Linked DNA regions of Homo sapiens: region 1 is linked to region 2. Evidence: fine-mapped expression QTL. A gene starts in region 2. The other region holds a variant in brackets. All regions are shown on one strand. Distances are from middle to middle. Region 1 overlaps CHSY1 (chondroitin sulfate synthase 1). Region 2 holds the start of CHSY1 (chondroitin sulfate synthase 1).

Region 1 (4,268 bases), 46 kb after region 2:
GTCACCCAGGCTGGAGTGCAGTGGCACGATCTCGGTTCACTGCAACCTCCGCCTCCTGGGTTCAAGCAATTCTCATGCCTCTACCTCCCGAGTAGTTGGTATTACAGGCGTCCGCCACCATACCTGGCTAATTTTTGTATTTTTAGTAGAGACGGGGTTTCACCATGTTGGTCAGGCTGGTCTCGAACTCCTGACCTCAAATGATCCACCCGCCTTGGGTTCCCAAAGTGCTGGGATTCCAGGCATGAGGCACCATGACTGGCCTTCTGTATCTTTTTGATATGCCCCTATAACTGTTTGAGCAATTTCTTTCTGGCATACTAAGATGTTTCAGGCTGTTATTTTTTCCCTGCCCTAGCCTTGCAGTCTGCCATCTCTCGAAGAGTCTCTGGTTCTTTTTAGTGGAAAACATTTAGAAGCCAAGATCTAGACTGTGGGTGTGCTCGTTGCTGTGGGTGTTGGCTGGCCCACTCCTGAGCAGTGGGCTGACCAGGGGAAAATGTGCATGTGTGTGTGTGTCCTTGGGTTCCCCCTGATACTCCAAATCCCATTTCAACCCCAAAGGGTTCTTCCTCTTCTCTCCCTTTCTGTATTTGTAATTGCTTTATTTGACAGTTGAGAAATCTAGCTGCTCATTGGCCTCAGCCACATTTACTTACTGCATCAGTTTCCGCTGTAAGTGAGCAATCCTCTGTTGCAATGCCTCCTTCCCGGTGCCTTCCCTATGTGACTCAACTCAAGGGTTGGCGGCCTACCTGACGCCCCAAGGCTGGGCCACTGCACCAGCCCACCCTCACCCCATCTGGGGACCCTATCTTGCTTGACCCCACTAGTGGCTTTTTACTTCAGGACAACGGGTGGGGCAGGGGCAAGAAGCCTAACTCCATCTTGAAATAAGCTTTTCAATTTTAGTTACTAGATTCCAGGTACTACCTGTGTCACATGGCAACGCAGCCCTCATTCTCAGAGGATTTTAAAAACCTGTTGGTAAATTTAGCAAGACTGAATATTTGCTTGGATAGTATATTCTGGAAGATCTATTTTCTTTGAGTGTTTATTTGTGCCAAATATTCAACTTTTTTTTTCTAGTAGATTGGGTCTTGTCTTAATTATTTCTGTATTCCATTTAGAGGTTAACATATGAGGCACTTGAGTGTTTGATGAATTAACAGATACAGAGCATATGAGAGAGGCACCTGGAAATTTAAGAAAAATATCCTGTTAACATTGAAATGAAATATTATATAACATACTAGAAGGTATTGTTGTTCACAGATAGCCAGCATCATGAGTTGGTTCTAAAAATCAGAATGAACAATTTTTAAAATACTGTTGTTAGTTGGCGAAGTGAAGACTTGGTGACGCTGATTCTTCCCATTCTGAAGGGTTATGTGGACGTAACTCTTTCCTTTGCTTTCAGCCAAAGACTTTTTATTTCCAAAAATGAGGTATAGAAGAAAAGACTTTTATTCCCATTTTGGATAGTGAGTGGCTTATTTTTCTTTTGACTGCAAATGCTGTGTTAATATAAAAAACATTTGTCAAGAGTAGACCCTTTCTGAGAAATATATTAGACAATATTTGTTTCAGTTATCTTAGTAGGATTTTTCCCCTTTTAGGTTTTGTTTGTTTCCTTTTGGCTTTGTTTTGTTTGGTCTTGTTTCTTTTAAATTAAACTAATTTTGGAATGTGCTGACACGCGAGAGTGGTACTGGATAGCCAGTGGAAATGCGTGGCATACGTTCCTAGAACATTAATTTTACCTGAGGTCTGGGAGAGAGACTTTTTTTATGAGATAAACATGGGTGTCCTAGAGTATCATTGCAAATTAGTGTGAATTTTTATGATTAAAAATGAGAAAAGAAATTTGGTATTTTTTGGAGGACTATTTTAGGCTGTGCCCCAAAACCCTGGGAATATTTGTTCACTCTCTCTGCCATTATGGCTGCTTCTGTGTAGGGAAAATAAAATGACAAACCTACATGTTTTCTCACAGATGATAAATGTATTTCTTCTTCTCTGTAGCCTATTAATTAATATCTAACACTGCTGTCTCTTCTAGCTTCCACAGTTTACTTTCTTTTGGTGCATAATTTAATGAGTGTTCGTTTATTTTCTGAAGTGTTATTTGTATAAAGTGAGCCCACATAAAAGCTTCTTTCCAAAGTGTTTTCATGGGAAACGGATCTTGGTGGTGATCTGTCACTTAGCACGTCACCGCCTTCAGAGCCCCAGCTGATGACTAACCCCACAGTGGGAGCTGCTACCCCTGCCTGTGGGTAGTGTGCCATGTCCTCCCTCACTGCGACCTCCACCCCTGCCTCTGACTCAGTGGTTCTCTTCAGTGGATCATATGAGTCTTTAGAAACAAATACCTGGTCGTTGGTTCTCCTGCCGACTCGAGACCTGGTGGGTTTTCCCTTGTCTGTCTAGTTTCACTCCGTGGCGCACGAGGCACACCATGCCTGTGCAGCCCTAGTCTTATCTCCTGAATCAAACCTCTCGCCTCAGAGGCTCACCCGGGGAGAGAAAGGAGAGCAGACAGAGATTGGAGTTTGAAATTAAACTTCTCATTTAGTATTGCAAA[C/T]GTTATGAAGCATATATCAAAAATCAAATGTCCTGGAATCCTGCTGCCTTAGTGATGGAGCGTATTACTGTCTATAGGAACTTGAAATAGAAAACACTACCATACCAGGATCATGGGGTAGAGCAAATTAATAAACAATCTTCTTTTTTTTTTTTTGAGACGGAGTCTCTCTCTTTCGCCCAGGCTGGAGTGTAGTGGCGCTATCTCGGCTCACTGCAAGCTCCGCCTCCTGGGTTCACGCCATTCTCCTGCCTCAGCCCCCCTGAGTAGCTGGGACTACGGGCGCCCACCACCACGCCCAGCTAATTTTTTGTATTTTTAGTAGAGACGGGGTTTCACCGTTTTATCCAGGATGGTCTCGATCTCCTGATCTCGTGATCCACCCACCTCAGCCTCCCAAAGTACTGGGATTACAGGTGTGAGCCACCACGCCCGGCCAACAATCTTCAAAATTAAAATTCTTCACTTAGAGCAGAATAAGCATGTATGGGTTTGTGTGTTTAAATGTCAGGCTGCTAATACTAATAGTCGTTAGTAGAAAAATCAAGCTCAGTTTTGTGATCACAGTACTCTTCAGGTTTGGGTATGTGTCTTTTCACAAGTAGCTATAAACATCTGGTAGACCTGTGTGTTTTCTCTAGTTATCAGGAAACATTGTGGAGTCTATGTCAATTGATTACTAGCTTGTTTATATAAATGGGGAAATATAAAGACCAGGCTTTTTCTTAAACAACTGAAGAGTATGCTGGTTCTAGTTTCTTTCCTCTGAATCATGTGTGTGTGGTGGCAATTTAGTGACTGGGAGGCACTGGAAATTATTGGTTATAATAAATTGATGTCATGCCCACAGCACAGCAGGCAAAAAGGATGAATTAGAGACAGAAATAGTAATAGGGTTTTGTCCAGGAAACCTCAAGCATATGAGGTATTGCCATGTTGATTACTTTAAAAAAAGAAAAAAAAAGATAAAATATTAGAACTTTAAGCTTAATAAAAATAGATTACAGAGGAAAAACTTCTTGCTTTATGCTTCTGAAAATCTCTCTGAGTAGTTAAAGAGCTGTTTAGAAATCTGTTAGCCATACTTTCATGATTTGCTGGTGGATAGAGTATGTAGTATTGCGAAAAATTAGTTACTATGATCTTCGCCAAGTGACAGTATTCTTAACTCTGCCAGATGGTCTTTTTTGTGTGTGTGGCGGGGGGATGGAGTCTCGTTCTAGTGCCCAGGCTGGAATGCTGTGGTGTGACCTTGGCTCACTGCAACTTTCGGCTCCTGGGTTCAAGCAATTCTTGTGCCTCAGCCTCCTGAACAGCTGGGATTATAGGTGTGTGCCACCATCCCCAGCTAATTTTTTGTAGTTTTAGTAGAAATGGGGTTTCATTATGTCAGTCAGGCTGGTCTTGAACCCCTGTCCTCAAGTGATCTGCCTACCTTGGCCTCCCAAAGTGCTGGGATTACAGGTGTGAGCCACCATGCCCAGCTGGATGGTCATTTTTAACCACTGTTTTTTGGGGGGCAATTTTTATTTTGAAAAAATTTAACTTAATAGAAAACTCCTATAAGTCTTTCACCCAAATTCCCTGATTATTAATATTTACCACATCAGCTTTATCATTTTCTCTATAAGTGTACATTATTATTATTATTATTATTATTATTATTATTATTTGAGATGGA
Region 2 (4,268 bases):
TCCAGGGGGCTGTGGGGAAGGACGCATGTGTGTGCATTGGGGGCAGATGTTCCAGACCCTCGTTGTCCTCCCTGGCTCCTTGCTGGTATTGACTAGTGGGGCTGGGCATGGGACAGGCCTTCATACTGGGGGTACCAGTCCTGTCCAGCTGTTTGGGTCTCTGGCTGTCACTGAAGTTCTTGATTCCAGGTATTTGCTACTGGCTGTGAAATCCCCACTTAGGATAGCCTTGTCTCCTGAGCCAGGCCCCTTACTGGGACACTTTTGGATTCTTCCCCAGGAGAACTGCCTCAGCTCAACAATCCAGCTGCTCCTTCCAGATGTGCTAGAGCTTGCCCTCCTGCTCCTAGGCTGCATGCCGGAATTGGTCCCTGCCCCTGGCAGACTTCTACAGGACCTCAGTTTCTCTCTTCTCCTTCCAACCCTCTCTTGGCCTGGCATATCCCTCTTCTCCCAGAGGGAGTTCCCGTATGTCTTACTCTCCTTCTCCAGGGAATTGTAAGCCCTCAGGCTCAGCCTTTACAAAGAAAAGGGTATCCTTTCTACATTACGAAAGACCCCCATTAAGCCTGCAGGTGAGACAGGTGAGACTGTTAACCTAGGAACTGAGGGACAACTAGGAACCAGGATATTGAGGAGGACAAAATATTTGGCATCCTCAGAATATTATTCCCATCAGATATTTATATACTTTTTTTTTTTTTTTCCTTGAGACGGAGTTTCGCTGTTGTCGCCCAGGCTGCAGTGCAATGCAATGGCACGATCTCGGCTCACAGCAACCTCCACCTCCCGGGTTCAAGCGATTCTCCTGCCTCAGCCTCCCGAGTAGCTGGGATTACAGGCATGCACCACCACCCCCGGCTAATTTTGTATTTTTAGTAGAGTCGGGGTTTCTCCATGTTGGTCAGGTTGGTCTCGAACTCCTGACCTCAGGCGATCCGCCCGCCTCAGCCTCCCAGAGTGCTGGGTTTACAGGCGTGAGCCACCGCGCCCGGCCAGCTTTTCACTGGACACTAGTTTCGAAGAAAACTAGGTAAGTCTAAAGCAGGTTAGAAAATACTGAAATCGTTGAATATGCTACAAAATTGAACATCTGAATCTGGCCAGATTCGTACTTCATGTAAATCACTGTGAATGATGGGGCTGCTGAATTTGGGGGATCTGGTGACTCCTCGGCATTTGTGGTTTATGGTCTTAGTGGAAACCTTTTTCGATGGTTTTCGAGCCTGTAATTCATGGTTGTATGTTCTGTATTTTTCCCAAGACCACTGCTGGAATCCTGTATTCACTGCATAATGAGTATTTTATTTTTAGATGTGGATCACCCCTTAGGGAGGGGCTCTGTGGGAAGGTAGGTAATGAACTATTTTTAATATAAATCACAAGTGTCAAAGAAAGTGGTAATATCCAAAGAATAAACAAGAGTGACCACCATTCAGGTGCCGAGAAGGTATCTGAAGCTCCCACAGGCATTTTAAACTGTGTGATAGTATTTCAACCATTTGGTCAACAATGAAGAAAGATCCAAGGATTGCCCCAGGCATGTGTTTATTTGATTCAATGCAGGTAACTTCTCAGGCCCAGGGAAACACTTTGCCCTTCAAAAGTTTCATTAGAAAACCCCAATATACTGGTGACTAAGTAACAAGACTGAAACTCTACACAAACTTTCGTTGTATGGAGACCTCCGCTTTTGCTGCCTTAGCTGAAGTATTGCAGAGGAAATGTATAAAACTTAAAATCCAGAGTAGAGGATCTGGGACCCAAAATCCGTCTTTAGAAATCCACGGCACTTTTACAGACGGACTATATTAAAGTAGGGACAAAGTCCCAGGCTGGGGGTACTAGCCGGCTATCTGCCCACACAGTATGTAAATGAAAGTAGGGTTTACCATCCAGGGCATTAACTTCATTTTCCTTGTCTTCGAGATCCATTAAATGCTAGTACTGTATGAGAAGCGTGGACCTTAAGTATTAAAGATGGCTTTTTCTTCTTCTTCTTCTTATTTAGCGTAGAAACTAGCAACAGGGAACAAGGTAACTGAATTCACGGTCCACTCGCAGGCGCGCACGTCCCCAGGGCTCCGGGACGGCTGTTCCCTGCGTGCGGCCGCGGGACTGCGGACAAAGCTGCAGTGTGGTCGGGAGCGCGGGGCCGGGAGCGCGGGGCCGGCCCGGCGGCAGGAAGGGCGTGGCCGTGGGGTGCAGCGAGGACGGCCCGTGCGGGAGGAACGTGCGCAGCGTGGAGTCTGGGGGCCGAGAAGCCCCCACTGCAAGGCTGGCTCCCGAGATTCGCGCCCGGGCGCCGCGGTGCGGGAAGCGGCCGTCCTCGCGGGGACGCCCTTGCGCCGGGTGCTAGGTGCGGATCACGGGCAGCTCCGGCCCCGCGGGCGCCGGGCGGGGGCCCACGCCCCCTCCGCCCGCCAGCTCCAGTCGCAGACCGCGCGGGCGGGGCGCCCGAGAGGGCTTTTTTTTTTTTTGGTCAAACTTCGGCCACGTGAACCGCCCCTCATTCACTTTTGCGCCAATCGCGCGGCGCGGACGGATCCCGAGAGGGGCCACGGCTCGCCGCCGGCGGGGCCACTTCATAACGCGCCGTGCGTGACGTGAGGGGCTCCTGTTGCAATGGCGAGCTAAGCCGGAGGATGTGCAGCTGCGGCGGCGGCGCCGGCTACGAAGAGGACGGGGACAGGCGCCGTGCGAACCGAGCCCAGCCAGCCGGAGGACGCGGGCAGGGCGGGACGGGAGCCCGGACTCGTCTGCCGCCGCCGTCGTCGCCGTCGTGCCGGCCCCGCGTCCCCGCGCGCGAGCGGGAGGAGCCGCCGCCACCTCGCGCCCGAGCCGCCGCTAGCGCGCGCCGGGCATGGTCCCCTCTTAAAGGCGCAGGCCGCGGCGGCGGGGGCGGGCGTGCGGAACAAAGCGCCGGCGCGGGGCCTGCGGGCGGCTCGGGGGCCGCGATGGGCGCGGCGGGCCCGCGGCGGCGGCGGCGCTGCCCGGGCCGGGCCTCGCGGCGCTAGGGCGGGCTGGCCTCCGCGGGCGGGGGCAGCGGGCTGAGGGCGCGCGGAGCCTGCGGCGGCGGCCCGGCGGGCGGAGCGGCGCGGGCATGGCCGCGCGCGGCCGGCGCGCCTGGCTCAGCGTGCTGCTCGGGCTCGTCCTGGGCTTCGTGCTGGCCTCGCGGCTCGTCCTGCCCCGGGCTTCCGAGCTGAAGCGAGCGGGCCCACGGCGCCGCGCCAGCCCCGAGGGCTGCCGGTCCGGGCAGGCGGCGGCTTCCCAGGCCGGCGGGGCGCGCGGCGATGCGCGCGGGGCGCAGCTCTGGCCGCCCGGCTCGGACCCAGATGGCGGCCCGCGCGACAGGAACTTTCTCTTCGTGGGAGTCATGACCGCCCAGAAATACCTGCAGACTCGGGCCGTGGCCGCCTACAGGTGAGCCCCTGCTCCCCGGGCACCGCCTCCTGCGTCCGGCATCCCGGCGGCCGGCATCCCGGGTGCTCTCCTGGCTCTCGCCTCCGCCCGCTTCCTAGGCCCTTCTTGGGCTTCCGGCGGGATCGGGTTGCCTCTCGGGAGACGCCGGGCCGAGGGAGAAAAGATCAGAGGCGGGATGGTGAGCGCGGCGCTCAGGAACATGGCCTTTGGGGTCAGATGGACTAGTGTGGCCTCGCTGGGTGTACCTCTCACCCTGATGAAGGCACTTTAGCCTTTGCAAATCGAAGCTTCTCGTTAGAAGGGCCCGACAGATCGGGTCTCCCTCATAATGTTGGAAAACTCATAGCACAGTACCTGATAGTGGAGGCAGTTGGGGCTGATACTGGATTCCCTAAAATGTGCACCTTTGTCCTTGCAAAGCTGGAGCCCGTGTACGTTAATCTAGTTCTAGAACCTTTCCACATCATACTCTCACATTTCGCAGTTGGAGGCACTCCTATAAATGAAAGAGAATGCCCGCAGCATATTGGACCACACCAGTCTGTTGAGTACAGAGAGAGAGAACCTTGGGGAAAAGCAGTTCTTGGCCCTTGGTAGATTCAGTGGAAAACTGCATTCTGGTGTTAATTAGTTCAGCTTGGTGGTGTATGCATGTTATCCAGTAACTGGGCTCTAGTTGGCCAAATGAGTCATAAAAGCAGCTGGAATTGTGTTCAGGTTTAACAAAGGGATTAGCCAATGTAGTCTCTAGAAGGGAGATGATTTTGGAATGGCTGGCATGGTTAGAATCAGATTTGTATTGGAGTGAATTTGAAGTTGGAGAGGGTTGTAGACTCGATAAAGGG

Evidence for each region. PIP is the estimated chance that this variant, and not a neighbour inherited with it, causes the effect.
Region 1: its variant is the best candidate, but not a certain one, in a credible set for the expression of CHSY1 in whole blood (INTERVAL, PIP 0.81).

What each region holds. Positions count from the first base shown.
Region 1 is chr15:101,204,427-101,208,694 of GRCh38, reverse strand. The region is part of intron 2 of CHSY1 (chondroitin sulfate synthase 1); the gene reads left to right. Among named protein-coding and RNA genes, the nearest start is that of CHSY1, 45 kb to the left of the region's middle. RefSeq lists a silencer at 2,801-2,966. The variant C/T (reference allele first, on the strand shown) is at 2,588.
Region 2 is chr15:101,250,292-101,254,559 of GRCh38, reverse strand. It overlaps CHSY1 (chondroitin sulfate synthase 1), which reads left to right and starts at 2,512. Exons shown (of 3, transcript NM_014918.5): 1 at 2,512-3,423. The coding sequence starts at 3,104. RefSeq lists silencers at 2,048-2,427, 2,598-2,907, 3,098-3,527.